Regions from separate parts of the Homo sapiens genome. Here region 2 is linked to region 1. Evidence: fine-mapped expression QTL. Tissue or cell type: whole blood. Region 1 holds a variant in brackets; the other region holds the start of a gene. All regions are shown on one strand. Distances are from middle to middle.

The links. PIP is the estimated chance that this variant, and not a neighbour inherited with it, causes the effect.
Region 2: it holds the start of PLBD1, and the variant in region 1 is fine-mapped to the expression of PLBD1 in whole blood (INTERVAL, PIP above 0.99). The same link has a PIP of 0.9 or more in neutrophils.

Annotation. Positions count from the first base shown.
Region 1 is chr12:14,584,318-14,595,321 of GRCh38, forward strand. The region is part of intron 2 of PLBD1-AS1 (PLBD1 antisense RNA 1); the gene reads left to right. Among named protein-coding and RNA genes, the nearest start is that of PLBD1, 22 kb to the left of the region's middle. The variant C/T (reference allele first, on the strand shown) is at 5,324.
Region 2 is chr12:14,562,554-14,573,557 of GRCh38, forward strand. It overlaps PLBD1 (phospholipase B domain containing 1), which reads right to left and starts at 5,330. Exons shown (of 11, transcript NM_024829.6): 1 at 5,029-5,330. The coding sequence starts at 5,143. PLBD1-AS1 (PLBD1 antisense RNA 1) reads left to right here and starts at 5,179. Exons shown (of 6, transcript NR_120465.1): 1 at 5,179-5,253; 2 at 5,466-5,639. RefSeq lists silencers at 4,175-4,351, 5,091-5,200 and an enhancer at 4,596-5,277.

The DNA of each region.
Region 1 (11,004 bases):
ATCTGCCCGTCTCGGCCTCCTAAAGTGCTGGGATTACAGGTGTGAGGCACTGCGCCCGGCCGAATTGTTTAAACCACCCAGAGCTAGCAGTAAACTCAACATCCTAACTGTCTAATATTTTCTTTCAACATTGCAAACCTTTTGCTTTGACCGATTGTCCTGAAGAGATTTGCTTTGACTATAGTTGCTGAGAGGGATATACTTCTGTGTCTGGTCTTCAGTCCAGGTCATTAGAAATTTCTCCATATCTGATATAGGCCCTCCTAGAATTTTTGTTAGTCTCATTGCTTTCAATAAAGCAGATCCTTCAACAGTTTCTGTGACTTTGTTCTTGTTCATCAAGATTGTAGCTATAGTGAAATGGGACATGCCTGACTGGCGAACAGTACCAATCACTGATTTTCCACTTTGGTAATCCCCAGTTACCTTTAATTGGTCAATCACTTAATGTGGCCTCTTATTGGCAGCATTAGCTGTGAATTTTTAATGATTATGAGCCATGATGAACACAGCATGTTACATCAAGCACAAGAGAAAATAATGCAATCAAGAGATGTGGTAAACATGAGACCTATGAGGCTGCTGCCTGCATAACATGGCATGCTGTTTTATCTATTTTATTAATTAATTATTTATTTATTCATTTATTCATTTGAGACGGAGTCTTGCTCTGTTGCCTAGGCTGGAGTGCAATGGCGCGATCTCAGCTTACTGTAACCTCTGCCTCCCGGGTTCCAGTGATTCTCCTGCCTCAGCCTACCGAATAGCTGGGATTACAGGCATCCACCACCATGCCCAACTAATTTTTGTATTTTTAGTAGAGACAGAGTTTCACCATGTTGGTCAGGCTGGTCTTGAACTCCTGATCTCAGGTGAGCCGGCCACCTCCGCCTCCCAAAGTGCTGGGATTACAGGCGTGAGCCACCGTGCCCGGCCAGCATGCTGTTTTGTAGTACTTTCTTTTATAAGTAGGAGTAAACTCTAAAATAGCAATAAAACTATAGTAAATACATAAACCAGTCACAAAGTCACTTATTATTATTATCAAGTATTAATACATAACATAACTGTACATAATTGTATGTGCTTATACTTTCACATAACTGGCAGTGCAGTATGTTTCTTTACACTAGCATCACCACAAACACATGAGTAATGCATTGCACGTTACCTTATGATGGCTGCAAAGTCATTGAGCAACAGGAATTTTTCAGCTCCATTATAATCTAATAATCACATATGTGGTTCATCATTGACCAAAATGTTATATGCATGACTGTTTATATAATTGGCCCTCCATATCTGCAGGTTTTGCATCCTCAGATTTAACCAATTGACAAATGAAAATATTAACAAACAGAACAATAAAAAATAATATAAGCAATACAGTATAACAACTATTTACATAGCATTTAGATTGCATTATGTATTGCAAATAATGTAGAGATGATTTAAAGTATTTGTGAATATGTGTAGTATGTGTATAGGCTATATGCAAATACTACCCCATTTTATATAAGGGACTTGAGAATTTATGAATTTTGGTTTATGAGGGGTTCTGGAACCAATCCTTCATGTACATATATATATATAAATCTTTATATATATTCATATATATTCATACATATTCATACATATATTCATACATATATTCATATATATATTCATACATATATTCATATATATTCATCTATATTCATATATATATTCTCATATATTCATATATATATTCTCATATATTCATATATATATTCTCATTTATATGTCCATATATATATTCTCATATATATGTCCATATATATATTCTCATATGTATGTCCATATATATATTCTCATATGTATGTCCATATATATATTCTCATATGTATGTCCATATATATATTCTCATATGTATGTCCATATATATATTCTCATATGTATGTCCATATATATATTCTCATATGTATGTCCATATATATATTCTCATATGTATGTCCATATATATATTCTCATATGTATGTCCATATATATATTCTCATATGTATGTCCATATATATATTCTCATATGTATGTCCATATATATATTCTCATATGTATGTCCATATATATATTCATATATATTCATATATTCATATATATGTTCATATATATTCATATATATTCATATATGTTCATATATGTTCATATATGTTCATATATATTCATATATTCATATATATTCATATATATGTTCATATATATTCATATATATGTTCATATATATTCATATATATTCATATATATGTTCATATATATTCATATATATTCATATATATGTTCATATATATTCATATATATGTTCATATATATTCATATATATGTTCATATATATTCATATATATTCATATATACATATATATTCATATATATTCATATATTCATATATATATTCATATATATTCATTATATATTCATGTATATTCATATATATGTTCATATATATTCATTATATATTCATATATACACACATACATTTTATATATACATATGTATAATTTCATATATGCATAATGTATATAAAATGCTATGAGATGGACTTTCTGTTTAGGTTTAGTTTTGTATTTTTGTTTAGGACTACATCGCTTCCTTCTTAAATGGGCACTCACAGAGTAGTTGGTGGCATATGTCATGCACACATGAGAACAAAGCTTCCACTGGCCGGGTATGGTGGCTCACACCTGTAATCCCAGCACTTTGGGAGGCCGAGGCAGGTGGATCGCTTGAGCTCAGGAATTCAAGACCAGCCTGGGCAACATGATGAAACCCCATCTCTACAAAGTATACAAAAATTAGCTGGGCATGGTGGTGTGTGCCTGTAATCCCAGCTACTCAGAGACTGAGACACAAGAATTGGATGAACCTGGGAGGCGGAGGTTGCAGTGAGCCAAGACTGCACCACTGCACTCCAGCCTGGGTGACAGAATGAGACTCCGTCTCAAAAAAACAAAACAAAACAAAAACAAAACAGAGCTTCCACAGATAAGTGCCCAGTGATAGTTAATACCAATAAATACCCCAGGAAGTTAGGGGAAGAAGACATATGTTCTAGTCTGAAGGGGCTCTTAGAGGAGGTGGAATTCAAGCTGAGTCCAAAAGACAGATCATATGTAGTTAGGAGGAAGGAAGGCATGGGAACAGATATGAACAAGCTCAAGCCAAAAGGAGAAGGCACTGAGGTGTAAGAGGGGTGTGCCCCTCCTTCCTGCCTAGCTTGGCCTGTTCCAGTGTGCCCAGCTCCATTTCCAGAGTATGGGTACTCTAGTTCTTCTCCAAGTGCTTTATTTTCATTTTTTTAAGACAGAGTATCTCTCTGTCGCCCAGGCTGGAGTACAGGGGCATGATCTTGGCTCACTGCAACCTCCACCTCCCTGGTTCAAGCAATTCTCGTGCCTCAGCCTCCTAAGTACCTGGGACTACCAGCGTGTGCCACCAGGCCCTCCAATTGCTTTATGATAGCAGCAGGTTCCCAACAATCCCCTCTGTACTCTTTAGGCATGGAATCAAGCAAGCAGCCAACAACGGAGTAGAACCTCCAGCGGGAACCTCTTGGTGTGAGCAGTCCAGGCACTGCCCTGGGCACTGGCATTATGCCCTGTCGCAGAAGTCCTCCACTCTTTCTACAGGCCCTGGTCACCTGCAGACTACATCCCATCAGTTAACAAGCTATTAGGATAGGGTTCTTTCACCAGTTATTAACCTGGAAACAGGTTAATTTTCCATCCTTGATTCCTCTCCATACCTCTCACTTGTCCCTTCTTCTTCTTATTTTTCTCAAATTCCTTTTTACCACATTATTATTTTTTTAGACAAGGTTTCCCTCTGTCACCCAGGTTGGAGTGCAGTGGTGTGATCATAGCTCACTGCACCCTCAACCTCCCAGGCTCCAGCGATTTTCCCACCTCAGCCTCCAGAGTAGCTGGGACCACAAGCATGCCACCATGTCTGGTTAATTCGTGTACTTTTTGTAGAGGCAGGGTTTCAACAAGTTGCCCAGGCTGGTCTCCAACTCCTGAGCTCAAGTGATTTGCCTGCCTTGGCCTTCCAAAGTGTTGGGATTACAGGCATGAGCTACCTTGCCCTGCTTACTTAAAAAAAAATTTTTTTTTAATTTCTACTAGAAGTTAGGTCTGGCTATGTTGCCCAAACAGGTCTCAAACTCCTGGCCTCAAGGGATCCTTCCACCTCAGCCTCCCAAAGTGTTGGGATTAAAGGTATGAGCCACAATATTCAACCCTCCTTAAGCACATACTTTTGTATGTTAGTGATGCTATCTTTCTGACCATGATCATAATTCTGACACGTCTTTGCTAAAGTAGAAAAAAAAAAGCAACAATAGTGAACACTTCAAACACAGCAACTGTTACAGGATCTCTGGGGTGTCAATTTTCTGGCTGGAAACCTCTGTGGCAGGTGGTGCCTTTGCCCGAGTTCTTGTCCTGCATCCAATAAGAATGAGGTAACAGACAAGTGAAGGGTGAATAAGACAAAGATGATCTTTACTAAGTGTTAAAACAGCTCAGAGGAGAGCCGCAGTGGGTAGCTCCTCTCTGTAGGTAGGTTGTCTGTGGAGTGTTCAGCTCTCAGCAGAACAGAGGCCCTGGAGAGGGCTGCTCCTTTCTGCTACTGGTCTTCCCAATGTCTGCTGCTCTCAGCAGAAAGGAGGCCCTGAAGAGGGTTGCTCCTGTCTACAGAGGGTCATCCCACCCCATTGTTTCTCCCTCTCTGAGTCCTCTCCATCCTCTGCCCTGTTCTGACTGAGCCCGGGGCTTTTATGGACCTCAGAGGGGATGAAGTGCAGGCTGATTGGTCCATGGGCAGCCATGGGCAGCCAGAAGAAGCACCATGAGTCCCCACTCCCGTCAGCAGGACTGGCAGCCCACAGGCCTTCAAGTCCTTTTGTTAGGACTACATGTCTTCCTCCCTGGCCTGAAGGTGGAGCCTCACTGGGGATCTGCCCCCTTCCACCCGGGAATCTATCTGTTTCCTTCTGCCATTCTTGGCCCCAGGGCTCAGCCTCAACCCTGCTCCCAGATCACAGTGGGCACAGGGAGTGGAGAGAGGCCAGGCAGGGAGAGCAGACACCGCCAAGCCTGCAGAGACAGGGTGGGGGGGGCCCTTACCGGGGTCCCAGGGGTGCAGGCTGCAAAGACTCTTGGGTCCTGCGCTAACTCTGAAGGGTGCAACTCGGAAGGCGTGGGGCTTCTGCTTGTCTCAGGCTCCTGCCTGCCTGTTCTGTGGAGCCTGGTAGGCCCAGGTCTGCAGCCGTTGAGTCTATGGCCAGAGATTCTGCCTGCTCCTGGGCCCC[C/T]CAAGAACCCAGGGAGGCTCAGATCCACAGCAGCAGTTTGGGCGGTTGCAGCCCCACCCAGGAGAGCAGGGCTTCTGCCTGCTCCGTGGAGCGGGAGGCCTGGGTTTGCAGCTTGCATTCGGGCAGCTGCTGCCGCACTCGGGGAGCTCCCAACTTAACTCTGAAGGGGCGGGGCTCCCCCTGGCTCCATGTAGTGTGCAGCCCCAGCCCCGTGCCTCCTTGCCGCAGCCAGCGTGATGGCAGCAGCCACTGCCATCAAAACCAGTTAATTTCTGGTTGGAGGAGTTCTGCTAAAGGAAAGTACCAGGGTTGCCCTTGAATCTCCAGAGCAGGAAGCCCAGGCCAACTCTTTGGCATTTAGGAAGTGAGGATAAACTCTGACTCTCAGAGGTGGTGTAGTCTCTCCTCCTTGTTTGCTTAGGGTATTTGCTTTATGCTTCTTGGCCTACTCACTGATTGGTTTCTTCCTCTTCCATCTGCACTTGGTAGAAATATTTCAATTCCACTTTGGGAGGCCGAGGCAGGTGGATCACCGGAGGTCAGGAGCTCGAGACCAGCCTGACCAATATGGTGAAAACCCGTCTCTACGAAAAATGCAAAAATTAGACGGGCCTGGTGGTGGGTGCCTGTAATCCCATCTACTTGGGAGGCTGAGGCAGGAGGATTGCTTGAACCTGGGAGGTAGAGGTTGCAGTGAGCCGAGATTGTGCCACTGCACTCCAGCCTGGGTGACAGAGTGAGACTCTATCTCAAAAAAAAAAAAAATATTTTAGTTCCAGCCATGGCTCTCTCTACATGACCTGCCATCTTCATCACTCAACTCTGATTGACTTGTGACTTCCTGCAGCATTTCCTAGAAAATGGAATTGGCCCTGCAGGGGTTAGTGGTTTACCTTATTCCAATCAGCTGTGACCAGGGGAGCATATTTACAGCTATGCACAGGGCTCTTTCACCCTTTTGGCAGGGGTTAGGTGAGGGATAGTTTACACAGAGGATCTGAGCACCTAAGGATTTCTATCAATACAAGAGAACTTGAAGCAGATACTGAAAATTGGTTCCCTTTTAATCACTTTCTAGTTTGGCTCCTTGAAAGTTTAACACCATTTCTCAGACTTCTTTGCAGCTAGGACTGTGCCAAGCAGAAGCTAGATCATGTACAGAGTCCTAGCTGCAAAGAAGTGGAAATCTTGGAGTAATGTGAAGAGGCCACCACATTTGGGGAGATAGTATTTTCGGCAGGCAGGTGGCAGAGGCGACTAGTTCTTCCGGGGCAGCTGTGGTGCAGTTTCCAGCATACAGTCTCTCATGGTATAGGTGCCAAGCAGTGCCTGCTGTGGTGTTTTTCTGAAATAGTTCTCTGTCGTGACTAGTTATTGTTTCTGGATTCTCCTGGCTTTGCGAGGGTAAGCGTCTGGAAACTTTTATGGCAGTTGGATATTGTCACAACATGCAAGCATGTAATTTTTGTGGTTTTAAAAGTATTATTCTGAGACAGAGGTGAAATGGAAAAAAGCAAAATACCCCTTCATCCTTCATCACAGACTGAGAAGCACTGGCTCTCTACTGCTTTTTTTTTTTTTTTTTTTTGAGACAGACTCTGGCTCTGTAGCCGAGGCTGGAGTGCAGTGGCATGATCTTGACTCACTGCAACCTCTGCCTCCTGGGTTCAAGCGATTCTCCTGCCTCAGCCTCCCGAGTAGCTGGGGCTACAGGCGTGTGCCACCATGCCTGGTAATTTTTTGTATTTTTAGTAGAGATGGGGTTTCACTGTTAGCCAGGATGGTCTAGATCTCCTGACCTCATGATCCGCCTGCCTTGGCCTCTCAAAGTGCTGGATTACAGGCATGAGCCTCTGCGCCTGGCCACTGCTTTTGTTCTTGAGCTGAGTGAGCGACTGGGCAAGGTACAATCTCTGTAGAAGCCGCAGAAGGCTCCTGTGCAATGTACACTCTTACAAAACACCTGTACTTGTATAAACGACAAGGCAGGTCTTATTTCCAAAGAAATGTAGAACTGAAAATGATAACTCTTTTTTTTTTTGCAACAAACAAGAGTAGTAAATCATAAATCTGTCCAAATATTAGGACACATTTGAGCCAGGACAATGTCACTGCTTTCTTTGCCATGTAATCTATCTACCCTGGGGTTGGGTTAATACATAAAATGATTTGACCTAGGAGTAATCTACACAGTGCCAAATTGCAGTTATTTAAAGGTGCAAGATATGATGTATTTTAGCTGGGATTGCACTGTATGGTGTCTTTGCATGTGTGTACACATACATAAAGTTTTATGTTCCATAAAAGCATGGAAAATTGATGATGGCATTTTTAGCAAACATGAAACAATGTGCTGTTGCTGCAAATACAAAGCCTTCCTCCAGGAGAATTCTAAAATGGATATTATTATATTTTTATAATGCTTATCACCACCATTAGAACAAGACCGTTTTGGAATATATCATTCAACAGCTGGCCTGCCATGTGCTGGCTGAATAAAATCATGGGACTCAGGCATAAAAGGAGCAATTTCCTACATCATTTTTGTTGTTGCTCTTTTTTAGTCATAAAAACAGACTAGATGATCATTCAAAATATACTCTCAGAAGGACAGGAATACTTCATTTTGTGCAAATAGTTAGGTTCCTGAAAAAAATTGTATGGGTTAATTTTTCCTTCTATAATTGAGTGCCATTTTGTACACATGAGAAAAAATACATTTTAAAGACAATTCTGAATCTTTAAAAAATATAATCACCCTCAATTTTTATGACAAAATATTTATTTCTTACAAATAATCTAAGTAATAAATGTAGATGGTTAAAAAATAAAAATATCATTAATATTATAATAAAAAGCAAGTCACCTAGCTGACATTCCTCTTCCACTAGTCCCATGTCTCTGGAGTTGACCCTTTTTACTTTTCCCGCCTTTGCATCTTCTGAAGATTGTTACCATAAATTGCAACAATATGCCTTTACAGTTGTTTATTGTTTTACTAACTGAGACATTATATGACTGATTTCCTACTATGATAGATGAAGAGTCAGCTCACTTGCAACCCTCTCAGTCTTATTCTCTAGCCTCTTCCATTATCAATGTTATCAGTTCCTCCAATGGTTGTCTCTGTAACTTCAAATTTATTTCATTTCTTAGTCCTTTGACCTAAGAACCTTATAAAAGCAATTCCTCTTAGGGTCCCACTATTTCCTCTATTGTTTTAGAACTGGCTAAGTATTTAATAGAATGTTCTTCAATTTGAGTTGGCCTGATGTTTTCTCACGATTACATTAAGGTTATTCATTTTGTTTAACTTTTATTTTAAGTTCAGGAGTACATGTGCAGGTTTGTTATATAGGCTAACATGTGTCATAGGAGTTTGTCATACAGATTATTTTGTCACCCAGGTATTAAGCCTACTACCCAATAGTTATTGTTCCTGATCCTCCTCCCAGCCTCCACATTCTGATAGGCCCCAGCGTGTATTGTTCCCCTCTATGTGTCCATTTGTTCTCATTATTTAGCTCTCACACTTATAAGTGAGAAAATGTGGTATTTGGTTTTCTGTTCCTGTGCAAATGAACGTACACATGTGTGTGTCTTTATGGTTAGAATGATTTATATTCCTTTGGGTATATACCCAGTGATGGAATTGCTGAGCTGAATGATAGATCTGTTTTTAGCCCTTTGAGGAATTACCACACTGTTTTCCACAATGGTTGAGCTAATTTATACTCCCACCAACAGTATATAAACGTTCCCTTTTCTCTACAACCTTGCCAGCATCTGTTTTTTTTTTTGTTGTTGTTGTTGTTTAGTTAGACGGAGTCTTGCTCTCTTGCCCAGGCTGAAGTGCAGCAACGTGATCTCAGCTCACTGCAACCTCCGCTTCTCAGGCTCAAGCGATTCTCCTGCCTCAGCCTCCCAAGTAGCCGGGATTACAGGTACTTGCCACTATGCCCAGCTAATTTGTGTATTTGGTAGAGACGGGATTTTTGCCATGTTGGCCAGGCTGGTCTCAAACTCCTGACCTCAGGTGATCCGCTCACCTTAGCTTCCCAAAGTGTTGGGATTACAGGCGTGAGCCACCATGCTGGGCTATTTTGACTTTTTAATAGCCATTCTGACTTGAATGAGATGGTATCTCACTATGGTTTTGATTTGCACTTCTCTAATGATCGGCGATATTAAGCTTTTTTTCATATGCTTGTTGGCTGCATATATGTCTTCTTTTGAAAACTGTCTGTTCTTGCTCTTTGACTACTTTTTGTTTTTTCCTATACATTTGTTTTAGTTCCTTATAGGTGCTGGATATTAGATCTTTGTCAGATGCATAGTTTACAAATATTTTCTCCCATTCTGTAGGCTGTCTGCTTACTCTGTTGATAGTTTCTTTTGCTGTGCAGAAGCCTTTAATTAGATCTCATTTGTCAATTTTTGCTTTTGTTGCAATTGCTTTTGACGTCTTCATCATGAAATCTATGCCTGTTCCTATGTCCAGAATGGTATTGCCTAGGTCGTCTTCCAGGGTTGTTATAGTTTTGGGTCGTACATTTAAATTAAGTCTTTAAGGCTGGGCGCGGTGGATCACGCCTGTAATTCCAGCACTTTGGGAAGCTGAGGTGGGCTGATCATCTGAGGCCAGGAGTTGGAGACCAGCCTGGCCAACATGGAAAAATCCCGTCTCTACTAAAAAAAATAGACGAATTAGCTGGGCATGGTGGTGTATGCCTGTAATCCCAGCTACTCGGGAGGCTGAAGTAGGAGAATCGTTTGAACCCAGGATGCAGAGGTTGCAGTGAGCCGAGATCATGCCACTGCACTCCAGCCTGGGCGACAGAGGGAGACTCCATCTCAAAATAAATAAATAAATAATAAAGTAATTAATTAATTAAGTCTTTAACCCATCTTGAGTTAATTTTTGTATATGGTATAAGGAAGGAGTTCAATTTCAATCTTCTGTGTATGACTAGCCAGTTATCCCAGCACAATTTATTGAATAGAGAGTCCTTTCCCATTGCTTGTCTTTGTTAGCTTTGTCAAAGATCAGATGTGACATCACCTACAGACATGTATGTAGGTATGTGGCATTATTTCTGGGCTCTCTATTCTGTTCCATTGGTCCATGTGATTGTTTCTGTACCGGTACCATGCTGTTTTGGTTACTGTAGCCCTATAGTATAATTTGAAATCAGGTAGTGTGATGCTTCCAGCTTTTTTCTTTATGCTTAGGATTGCCTTGGCTATTTGGGCTCCTTTTTGGTTCCATACGATTTTTAAAATAGTTTTTTCTAGTTCTGTGAAGAATGTCATTGGTAATTTAATAGGAATAGCACTGAATCTCTACATTGCTTTGGGCAGTATGACTACTTTAACAATATTGATTCCTCCTGCCCATGAGCATGGAATGTTTTCCCATTTGTTTGTGTCATCTCTGGTTTCTTTTTTGTCTTCCTTCCTTCCTTCTTTTTTTTTTCCACAGTTTCACTCTGTCACCCAGGCTAGAGCGCAGTCATGAGATCTTGGCTCACTGCTACCTCCGCCTCCCAGGTTCAAGCAATTTTCTTGCCTCAGCCTCCCAAGTAGCTGGGATTACAGGCATGTGCCACCATGCCCGGCTAATTTTTGTATTTTTAGTAGAGATGGGGTTTTGCCATGTTGACCAGGTTGGTCTCAAACTC
Region 2 (11,004 bases), 22 kb before region 1:
TCACTACCTCTATTTCATTTTTTACCACATTAATTCCTGTTTTGCAGTAGTAAAAAGAAGCTCCGTAATAACATTATTAACACATTTTCTAGTCACATTTTCAAGCTGGATGTTCGAAAGATTGTAACATATAAGTTGTATAAACTAGACTCCATTCCATTTTTTTGAAAGGCAAAACCTAAATGCATAAAAATTACTTAAAATGCTGAAGAAAATAAATCCCTTTGGTTTTATTCCATGAAGGGTACCACTACCTCTTTTATTTTGCTGTCTCCATAGTTAATGCCTTATAATGTGAAATCTAACAAAAGCAAAGGATAACAAGTGACAATGTAAAATTCATGTCTAAAGAAGTATGAAAACAAAAATTTCTTTTCTGCATGTCAACACTCAAGACAAAGTTCATATGTTTCTTAGCATATATATTATAAAAATAAGCCACCATGAATTTTTTTTAAAAAAATTGTTTTACTTCAATGTAAACACTGAAGGAGGATCCTTTTAAATATTCTTCTAAAGATTTTTATCTTTGCTACCAAATTTATGTTTTCAGAAGGACCAGGAAACAAAGTTTAATAATGAAGATAAGTGGGCACTTCCTTCAGACTTTGTTCTGGAATTTATCTTGTGTACATTATGCAAACAAGTTGATAAAGGGAGAGCACAAGAAAATGTTCAAGTTGGGACTGGGCACGATGGCTCACACCTGTAATCTCAGCACTTCGGGAGGCCAGGGCAGGCGATGCACTTGAGGCCAGGAGTTTGAGACCAACCTGGGCAAAATGGTGAACCTCATCTCTACAAAAAATACAAAAATCAACCAGGCATGGTGGTGCATGCCTGTATCCCAGTTACTCGGGAGGCTGAGGCATGAGAATCACTTGAACCTGGGAGGCGGAGGTTGCACGGAGCCAAGATCGCGCCTTTGCACTCCAGCTTGGGCAACAGAGCAAGACTCTGTCTCAAAAAAACAACAAAAAAAAAATTACTTCAAAGCACATGGATTATCATCTTCAATCCTGCCTGCCTTATCAAGACATGATAACTTTTTAGAGAAAAACAACTTCAGTGGCCACTCAATTATACAGCACTTACTGCATGTCAGGCACAGTGTTTCTCACAACAGCCCCATGAGATAGAGACACTTATAATACCCATCTTCCAGTTGAGGAAACCAAAGTACATATAGAGAAAATAACTGACTAAAGGTCACATGGCAAGTGTTGGAGTCAGGCTTCAAACACAGGCATTAGGGTTCCAAAGGATTTCCTCTTGCTGGAATTCTGTGTTACCTCTCTAATACTATACTTCCAAGAATGAAGGACTTCCGTGTAAAGAATGAACATACTGAGCAACTGTGAGGCCTTATGTCGAATGAATTTGGAAATAAGAATGTCCTCAGAGACCAGGTGCAGTGGCGGTCGCCTGAACCCCAGGGCTTTGGGAAATGAACCTGTGGGAGGATCACTTGCGAGCAAGAGTTTGAGATCAATCTGGGTAACATAGTGAGACTCTATCTCTACAAATAATTTTTTTTTTTAATTAGCCAAGTGTGGTGGTGTGCACCTGTAGTCCCATCTACTCTGAGGCTGCAATGAGCTATGATCGTACCATTGTACTCCAGCCTGGGTGACAGAGCAAGGCCCTATCTCCAAATAAATGAATAAATAAGAATGTCTGCAGAGTTAAAGGAGCAACTGAAATTGACCCCAGTCATAGGTCTGCCAAATCAGCTTATGGAGACTGAATGTTCCAGGATATTAAACTTTTTGACAACCAGATAAAGGTATTAACTGTTATTCTCAAGTGGACACTGGTAAGCCATGGCAATGTGGAAAAGGCAGTGTCCCAAAATCAGGGACCAGCAATGCTAGGCAAGCACCATGCAGTGGAGGGGCACTCTCTCGGCTGACTCAAGTGTATGATGCCTACCAGGAGACAGACAAATCAGGCCTCCAGCCTGACAATCTGTGATGTTATCTACCCCCATGTGGTTTGATTACAGTGAGAAAGTGCCTAGAGCAGACCTCACAAATATCCAGTCTGCCTGACAGTTATATTTCTAACTAAAAATTATGCTAAGTCTGATGAATAGACTTGGGTGTATATCAGGGTGAATCAGCTTTCTTAGCTGTGATCAGATATGGAGCAGTAGAAAGACTGAATTTCTGGAGTCTAGCCCTGCAAGGCCGAGGGCCAGATTCTGAACCAGTTTTACCAATATACATACCATATTATGAGTCTCTCAGCAGCCAACCCTAAAAGAATGTCTGCAGAGTTAAAGGATCAACTGAAACTGACTCCAATCATAGGTCTGCCAAATCACCTTATGGAGACTGAATGACTTCCAAGATGTTAAACTTTTTCAGAACCAGATAAAGGTATGATTTATTTCTCTAGTGACCACCTGACTTCTCTATACATACCACTTAGAAAAAATTATATAAGGACCTTCTAAAATCAATTATGGGGCTTTTGGTCTGGAAAGATAAACGCAACACCATATGTCTGAAATCATAGCTTGAAAGATTTGGCTAGAATGACTGTGCAATTATTTGTCAACTTCTGGAATAATAAAACTATAGAGTAACCTTTACAAATTGAAGAATATGCAAGAATTAACTAAAAGTGTCCGGGCATGGTAGCTCACACCTGTAATCCCTGCACTTTGGGAGGCTGAGGCGGGCAGATCACCTGAGGCCAGGAGTTCGAGACTAGTCTGTCCAACCTGTTGAAATCCCATCTCTACAAAAAATATAAAAATTAGCTGGGCGTGGTGGTGTGTGCCTGTAATCCCAGCTACTCGGGAGGCTGAGTCAGGAGAATTGCTTGAACCAAAGAGGTGGAGGTTGCAGTGAGCCGAGATCACGCCACTGTACCCAGCCTGGGGGGAAAATAAAAATAATAGGAAATAATAGTAAAAAAAAAAAAAAGTAAAATTAAAAATTGAAGAAGTTGTTTTTGGATAGATAGATGCATATGAGTGGATATAAAATCCATTCCAAGGGGATGGACATGCAATCCCTTTAGTGTTTACTGAATTCCTACTAAGTTCAGGGTACTGAGCTGGGTACTTCAGAGAACACATGACAAGTGAGAGGTAGCAAGTCCCAGTTCTTTACTCTTTGGTTGTTCGCAGGCTAGTAGAAGGGTAAAGACAAAGACCCAAAAAGCCTCAAGGGAAAACAGATTAATGTGGGTAGGACAAAGGAAACAGAGATCTCATCTGCTGAAATAGTGTGGCATCACCAGATGTCCTTAACACCTAGGTAAGTAAGAATCCTTTCCAGATTGCTGGGCATGGTGCTGTCAGGATCACTTCATCTCAGAAATGTCCTTACTTTCTGCCTTGGCTCCAGAACCTCCAAGCATGGAGTCAGCTTCCTGTTGGAGGAACTGTTTAAGATGCAGTTTCTTACAAGGTGGTACCTTCTTGAATAAATAGTGCTCCATCTTCAGAAAAACAACGCCTGTCTCACTCCTCAGGCTGCCCCCTCCACCTACAAAAACACTTAATCTCACTCGTCCAAAAAAACAGAAAAGGAATAAAGATTTTAGCCAGCATTCCAAACACAAAAGCTACCTCCACTTTTGGGACCCTCCCCAGCCTCCCCCAGGTACCTCTGAATGAGCTGTCTCCCTAGACTAGAAGTAGACACCAAGGCCACCTCCATAGTTTAGGCAAAGAACACAGAAAATCACGAGTCAGGAGCCTGTGGGTACATCTGATCCCACAGACTGGAAAGATTTAAGATTGAAGAGTGATAACTAAGCAAGTCTCAAAAACGAAGGCTCTTGATGATGGAAGGTAGTGTAATAAGAATCAGTACACATATTTAGGAAGGGGCATCCTCCCCCAAGCCCCACCCTACTCTTGTACAAGGTCAGCACAGAAAAGGGGATTATGAAATAAGACAAAATTAATTCTCTTATTATTACTTTAGAATTCTTTCAAGTCCCTTAGTTACAGTTCATAATCTTCACCTCCTTAGGAACGGAAATCATAAATCCAAGGCTTTTTAATTTAATTTAATTTAATTTTGGCAAAGGATGTAGATTTGCATGAATACCTGTAGAGATAAAACCTGTTTTTCCAAGAGGGAAGTAGTTAAGAAAATGCCCTCTGGCATCCCCTAACTCTGTCTTATTTGCTGTGTTATCTTTATGCGAATTACTTCTGATCAATCTCACTTTTCTCATCTGCAGAATGGGGAATATAATCCTATTTAGGATTATATATTAAAAAAAAAAAAAAAAAACTGCCGGGCGCGGTGGCTCATGCCTGTAATCCCAGCACTTTGGGAGGCCGAGGCAGGCGGATCGCCCGAGTCAGGCGTTCGAGACCAGCCTGTCCAACATGGTGAAACCTCGTCTCTACTAATAATGCACAAATTAGCTGGGCATGGTGGCTGACGCCTGTAATCCCAGCTACTTGGGAAGCTGAGGGAGGAGAATCGCTTGAACCCGGGAGGCGGAAGTTGCAGTGAGCCGAGATCACACCATTGCACTCCAGCGTCGCCCACAGAGAGCGACTCTGTCTCAACAACAACAACAAAACCAAAAGGCCCTTAAGCCCACTGCCAGGCACGTATCAAACTGACAATCGTGCAATCGTGATTTTAAGCCAAAGTCAATGTAAATTTTTAAAACACAAAACAAATGGCAAGCCGGAACCATACCTCCCTACAATCTGGATAAATATATTTAGATGCCCATTGGCTGGAGTTTTTAAGACCAGCCCAGGCTCTGTGGGCCAAGAATCGGCGCAGGAGCGAACCGATTTGTTGGCCAAGAATTCGGGCCAAAACTTGTAAAGTTGGCAGACGCACTCGCCATGCCCTTCTCAAGTGCCCTCGCTGCGCAGCCGCAGGGCTGGAGCGAGACCGCCGGCCGGAGGCGCGTTTCTCTGAGTTCACCCAGGAACCAGACGCCCGCTGGACGTCAACTCGGCCGGACGCGGGGCACGGGCGCTAACAGGCTCCTAGGAGCCTCCCCGGGCGCCCCCCGCCCAGGGCGCGCTCTGCTCACCTGCAGGTTTCGGCGGCTCCGCGGTGACTAACAACAGCGGCAGCAGCAGCAGCAGCAGCAGAAGCGGTGGCGGCTGTGGCAGCCCCGGGCGCCCGCCCGGACCGCCGCGGGTCATCGCTCCACGGCCGCGACCTTCCTCTGCGGGATCAGGCGGCCGCGGTGGCCCGCGGTGGCAGAAGTTGCAAGAGAGGCTCCTGGCCTACTCAGGGGCGCCGCCTCTCCGAGGTGGGGCGTCCTCAACTTTCCTCTTTCTTGAGCCCGGCCTGCTCCGGGCTCTGAGGGGCGAGGACGCTTCACGTGGTGGCCTGGGGCCCACCCCGCCTAGGAAAGGCGGATCCTTTACGTCTGACCCTCTAGCAACCCCTGGGCCGGTCTGGGAAAGTTCCCCAGCTGCACTTCTGGGAAATGCAGAGGCTGCCTGCCGCTTTCTTTCGCAGTTTTGCGGCCCAAGGCTTGGGCGAATCAGTTCACATCAACACCCCTACTAGCCTCTCCCTCCGGGGTCGACCATTTATCTCCAGCAGCGGACCAGGCGCCCGGGCCAGGGTGACATGCGCGCCCTGCCTACACGCAGCTCGGATCCTCTGCTGTTTCTGGAGAGGCCTCCACAGGTGCGTTTTCCTCAGCGATTAGCGTACCCCTCATTCCCAGGCTGTTTAACCTAAATCCATGCGCTGTAGCTCAGATTTTTTATCCTTTTTGCTTCCTCTTCGTTGGCTGGAGCCACCACAGGAGAGTGATTCAGACGGGGCTGACACTAGACACACTCCTACGTTTCTGTGGAGTCCCCATTTCTGTGTGGGGTCAGTTAAAAGTGACATTGTGAAGTAGTCAAAAGTTATGCCTTGGGTGATATTGTGAAGTTGGCACCGGGTGCCCTAGGTGACATTGTGAAGTAGGCAAAAGGCATTTCATTCATTCACTCAGCATTGGCTGGGCCCATCTTATACTCCAGATACCAGTGATATAAAGACAGCTAAGAGCATGCCTCACCACAGACAAAAAGAACTAAGCCAGCCGGGCGCCGTGGCTCACGCCTGTAATCCCAGCACTTTGGGAGGCCGAGGCGGGCAGATCACGAGGTCAGGATATCGAGGCCATCCTGGCTAACACGGTGAAACCCCGTCTCTACTAAAAATACAAAAAATTAGTCGGACACGGTGGCGGGCGCCTGTAGTCCAGCTACTTGGGAGGCTGACGCAGGAGAATGGCGTAAACCCGGGAGGCGGAGCTTGCAGTGAGCCGAGATCGCGCCACTCTACTCCAGCCTGGGCGACAGAGCGAGATTCGTCTCAAAAAAAAATAATAATAATAACAATAATAATTTTTTTAAAAAAGAACTAAGCCATATAGATAAACAAGTACACAGAACTTGCCATTCTACTGTGTTAGAGCTATGTTTAAGGTGCAGTGGGAGAGGGGGAAGGAGGGAACAAGCCACCTCTCAGATGGGAACCTCAGCACCCCACTCTTCCTCTTGGCCTTTCTTCTAAGCTTAACCTAGGTGTCAAGGAGAGATGAGAAGAGAGAATAAGCAGTACCTTTCATAACGGGGAAAATGTAATTGTTAGAAAAGATAAAGAACCTAAAAGTTCATCAAATCTCTGTGCAAATTGTGAAACACAAGTCACAATTTTGTGGTCCAGGCACCATGGCTCATGCCTGTAATCCCAACACTTTGGGAGGCCAAGGTGGGAGGATCACCGGAGCCCAAAAGTTCAAGACAAGCCTGTGCCACACAGGGAGACTCCAACTCATTTTTATTTAATTAAAATTAAAGTCACAATTATGTTTAATGGCATTTAATGAATGAAGACATCGAGGACATTGTAAAAGTTGCACATTTTCCTTCAAGTTAGAAAATTAAAATGAAGAAAAATTAAAACGAAGACATCGAGGACATTGTAAAAGTTGCACATTTTCCTTCGTTAGAAAATTTAAATGAAGAAAAATTAAAATGAAGACATCGAGGACATTGTAAAAGTTGCACATTTTCCTTCAAGTTAGAAAATTAAAATGAACCAAAAATGAAAATTTTGGTTGTGTTATGATGGGAAGAGAACCACATTAGGATGTTCAAGGAAGTGGTGCCACCCCAAATATTTGAGTCATATTGCCCTATACCACCCTCCTTCACCTTACTAACCCTTCTGATCCAAGGAGCCAAGTGTTCTGATGAAGTAAGATGCATATAAATGCCTAATGTGAACCTTGAGGCATTCATTCATCTATTATTTGTCATCAAATATTCGTTGACTCCCATGTTCCAAGCACAGAGCAGTAGACAAAACAAAGTCCCTGCCCTTGCAGAGCTTGCATTCCAGTAGTGGGGAGCAAATTATACATATAAACAAATTAATTGGATCAGGACTTCTCCACATCAGCACTATTGAAATTTTGGAGCAGACAACTCTTTGTTGTGGGGGGGTTGTCCTGGACACCCCTTGGCCTTTACCTACTGGATGCTAGTGGCACCCCCATTGAAAATGTCTCCAGACATTGTCAAATGCTCCCGTAGGGGGGCAAAATTGCCCCCTAGTTGAGAATCACTGAATTAGATGATAAATCTTGCTTTCTTTAAATTATGCCAGTTTTACATATCTGGGAGGAAAATGAGCTGCAAAACTCACACATAGTTAGGAAAATAAATCTTGGGACCCCAAAATCACTAAGCCAAGGGAAAAGTCAAGCTGGAAACTATGTCAGGCAAACCTGCCTCTCATTTTATTCTGAAATAAGATAGCTACAAAGATAAGAAGCTACATACCTCCCTCACAGTTTGCCCACAAGGAAATTCCCTGTGGACAAAGGGAAGACAGAACTTAAAAGTCATCCCTCTGAGGCTCACCTGAGACAAATGCACATCTGATTGCTTCCTCTGCAGTATTGTTTATGTAAAAATGCAGACTCCCTGGGCCAGACTAAGTTGTGTATTCTGTGGAAGGCTGATCAAGGATTCAAAAGAATGTAACATTTTGTCTCTTTTCTACTTCTAACATGGAATACCCCACTTTGAGTTGTCTCGCCTTACCATACTGAACCAATGTACATCTTACACGTATTGACTGATGTCTCATATCTCCCTAAAATGTATAAAAGTAAGCTGTACCCCGACCACGTTAGGCACATGTTGTCAGGACCTCCTGAGGCTGTGGCCCTGGTGTGTCCTTAACTTTGGCAAAATAAACTTTCTAAATTGACTGAGACCTGTCTCAGATTTTTTGGATTCACATACTAAAGCTGCAATGAGGAGAACCAAAGATGCCAGCTGCGAAATGTTCTCATCACTTCTATAATGGACTTGTGTGGTTTGGGGCTACTCAGCGTCCATTATTCTCTTCCTGTACCAACTTTTGGTGCAGGAATGCCAACTTTTGGTGAGCCAAGGGTGGAGGTGTTTCTACCAGGAGACACAATAAGGAAGTATTATTGAATTGGAATTTGAAAGTGCATTACTGAATTGCAATTGGTCTTTTTTGAGCTCCTCTTAAAACATAAAAATATGTTTGAATGGTTAAGAATAGGATTGTAGTATTGGTAATTTTGCCTTACTATCAAAAGGAGTAGGAGCATTGGATGCGGTGGCTCACTCCTGTAATCCCAGCACTTCAGGAGGCCGAGTTGGGTGGATCACTTGAGATCAGGAATTCGAGACTAGCCTGGCCAACATGGTGAAACCTCGTCTCTACTAAAAATACCAAAAATTAGCTGGGCATAGTGGCTCATGACTGTAATCCCAGCTACTTGAGAGGCTGATGCAGGAGAATCAGTTGAACCCAGGAGGCAGAGGTTGCAGTGAGCTGAGATCGCACCACTGCACTCCAGCCTGGATGACAGAGAGAGATTCCATCTCAAAAAACCAAAACCAAAACAAAATGAAAGGACTGGGAGCATAATCTCACCTGGGAAGCACCACTGGGGACTCAGACTCCTCATCCCAATGGGCAAAGAATCCCAGCAGCTGAGTTGCTGGCCCAAAGCAAGGGGAACATGGAAAAAAGGTGGAGAAGAGAAGTCACATATAATTATCTATAGCCAGGTGACCAGTTGCAGAAACAAAGATAGTGGTCTCTATTGGCCTCTATATTTCTTTCCTTGCTGTAACATGTATGTGGTGGATTGAAAATTTTACAGTTACAGTTCCAGAATGAAATATCCAAAATGTAAATTTGTTTCTTTTCCAAAAAAGTGTAATTAACTTAGCATTCAAACACATCCACTGATGGTAATTTTTTTTTTTTTTTAATTTTTTGTAAGACAGGATCTCACTATGTTGCTCAGGCTGGTCTCAAATTCCTGGGCTCAAGTGATCCTCCCACCTTGGCCTTCAAAAATGCTGGGATTACAGGTGTGAGTCCAACCAGTAAAAATTTTTAAATACCAGATTTAAGGTTGCGCAATTTCATTTGGACCAAATCCTTAGTGTCCTTTGCCTTCTTTATGTCCTTACCATTTTTCCTTAAGGATGACCTTAGCTTCGGGGGCTTATGTATTGACTTGGTACTAAATAAGGGACATTTACTCTGTGAGTCATACTCTTGGCTTAGTGGCCTCCACTAAGATATAGCTTTTTTTCTCATTCGGTCTGCAGGAATTGTAGTGCATAGGCATCTGCTGTTGGTATCTGCAGCTTTACCTTGACCTCGGATTTAGATTTCCAGATACTCTGTGTATTAGTTAATGTAATGCTAGCTATGATGACAGATAAACTCCAAAAGTTCATTGGATTAATGCAACAAAAGTTTATTGGTGTCTTGTATGCCAGTCCAGTGTGGGAGTTCTTAATCAGTAAGTGGCTTTCCTCCATGTAGAAATTTAAGAACCCACCTATCTTTCATCTTGTGGCTCTGTCATTCTCTAAGGCAGAAGTTCCCATGCTTTCTTGGTTTATAGTGCCCGTAGAGTGTCAGTAATATATTTTTAGGGCTGCAGACCAAAAGAAATACCTAACAGTTCTTTTTACTAAGTAGTTAGAGCCACACAATGCAATAGTAGTCATTTGCTCAGTATCCTACAGATGGTGCTACATGTCCCTCAAACATTTAAAGTATCCCAGAGAGCTCCGTTGATTGATTATAGTGTATTGTGCTACTACTGTTTCCCATGAGTATTTACTATATTCTCAGGTACACTCTGTGCATTCACTGTGGTTGCCAAACTGTGTGCGGGAACCATAATGCTATGGAGTCTTGTCTTCTGGCGATGGGAAGAGAAAAGCACCCCTCACCCCTGCTTCTTCTTTTTTTGTTTTTATTTATATATATATATATATTTTGAGATGGAGTCTCACTCTGTCGCCCAGGCTGGAATGCAGTGGTCCTATCTCGGCTCACTGCAATCTCCGATTCCCGGGTTCAAGCGATTCTCCTGCCTCAGCCTCCCTAGTAGCTGGGTAGCTGGGACTACAGGTATGCACCACGATGCCTGGCTAATTTTTGTTTTTAGTAGAGATCAGGTTTTCTCATGTTGGCCAGGCTGGTCTAGAACTCCTGACCTCAGGTGATCCACCCACCTCGGCCTCTCAAAGTGCTGGGATTACAGGCATGAGCCATCATGCTTGGCTGCACCCCTGCTTCTTAATAACTTCTGCTTACCTTCCATTGGCAGAGCTAGACATATTGCCCTATCTTTATGCTAACAAGACTGGGAAATGCAGCCTCTACCTGGGATGTCATTGCTCGGTATGGAAGTAAGAGCGCGCATTTCTGGTAGGCAGCCAGCTGTTTCTGACACACTTGGCAACCTCTTCATCCTGACTTGGATACTCTTGGGTCGTTTGGCTCATTCTCAAACCCCTCTGAGCCCTGCGGGAGTGGCAATAGGGCCTGAAAGCTAGTCTGATCTAGTGTGCATCAATTAATGAGCCAGCCATTGGGTTCATCTCCCCAAACATCTCCCTCAGTTATTGCTACTTTACAACTCAGGTGCCATGTGGGATTATATGGGTCCTATTCAAGGCTTGCAATTTTATGGGTA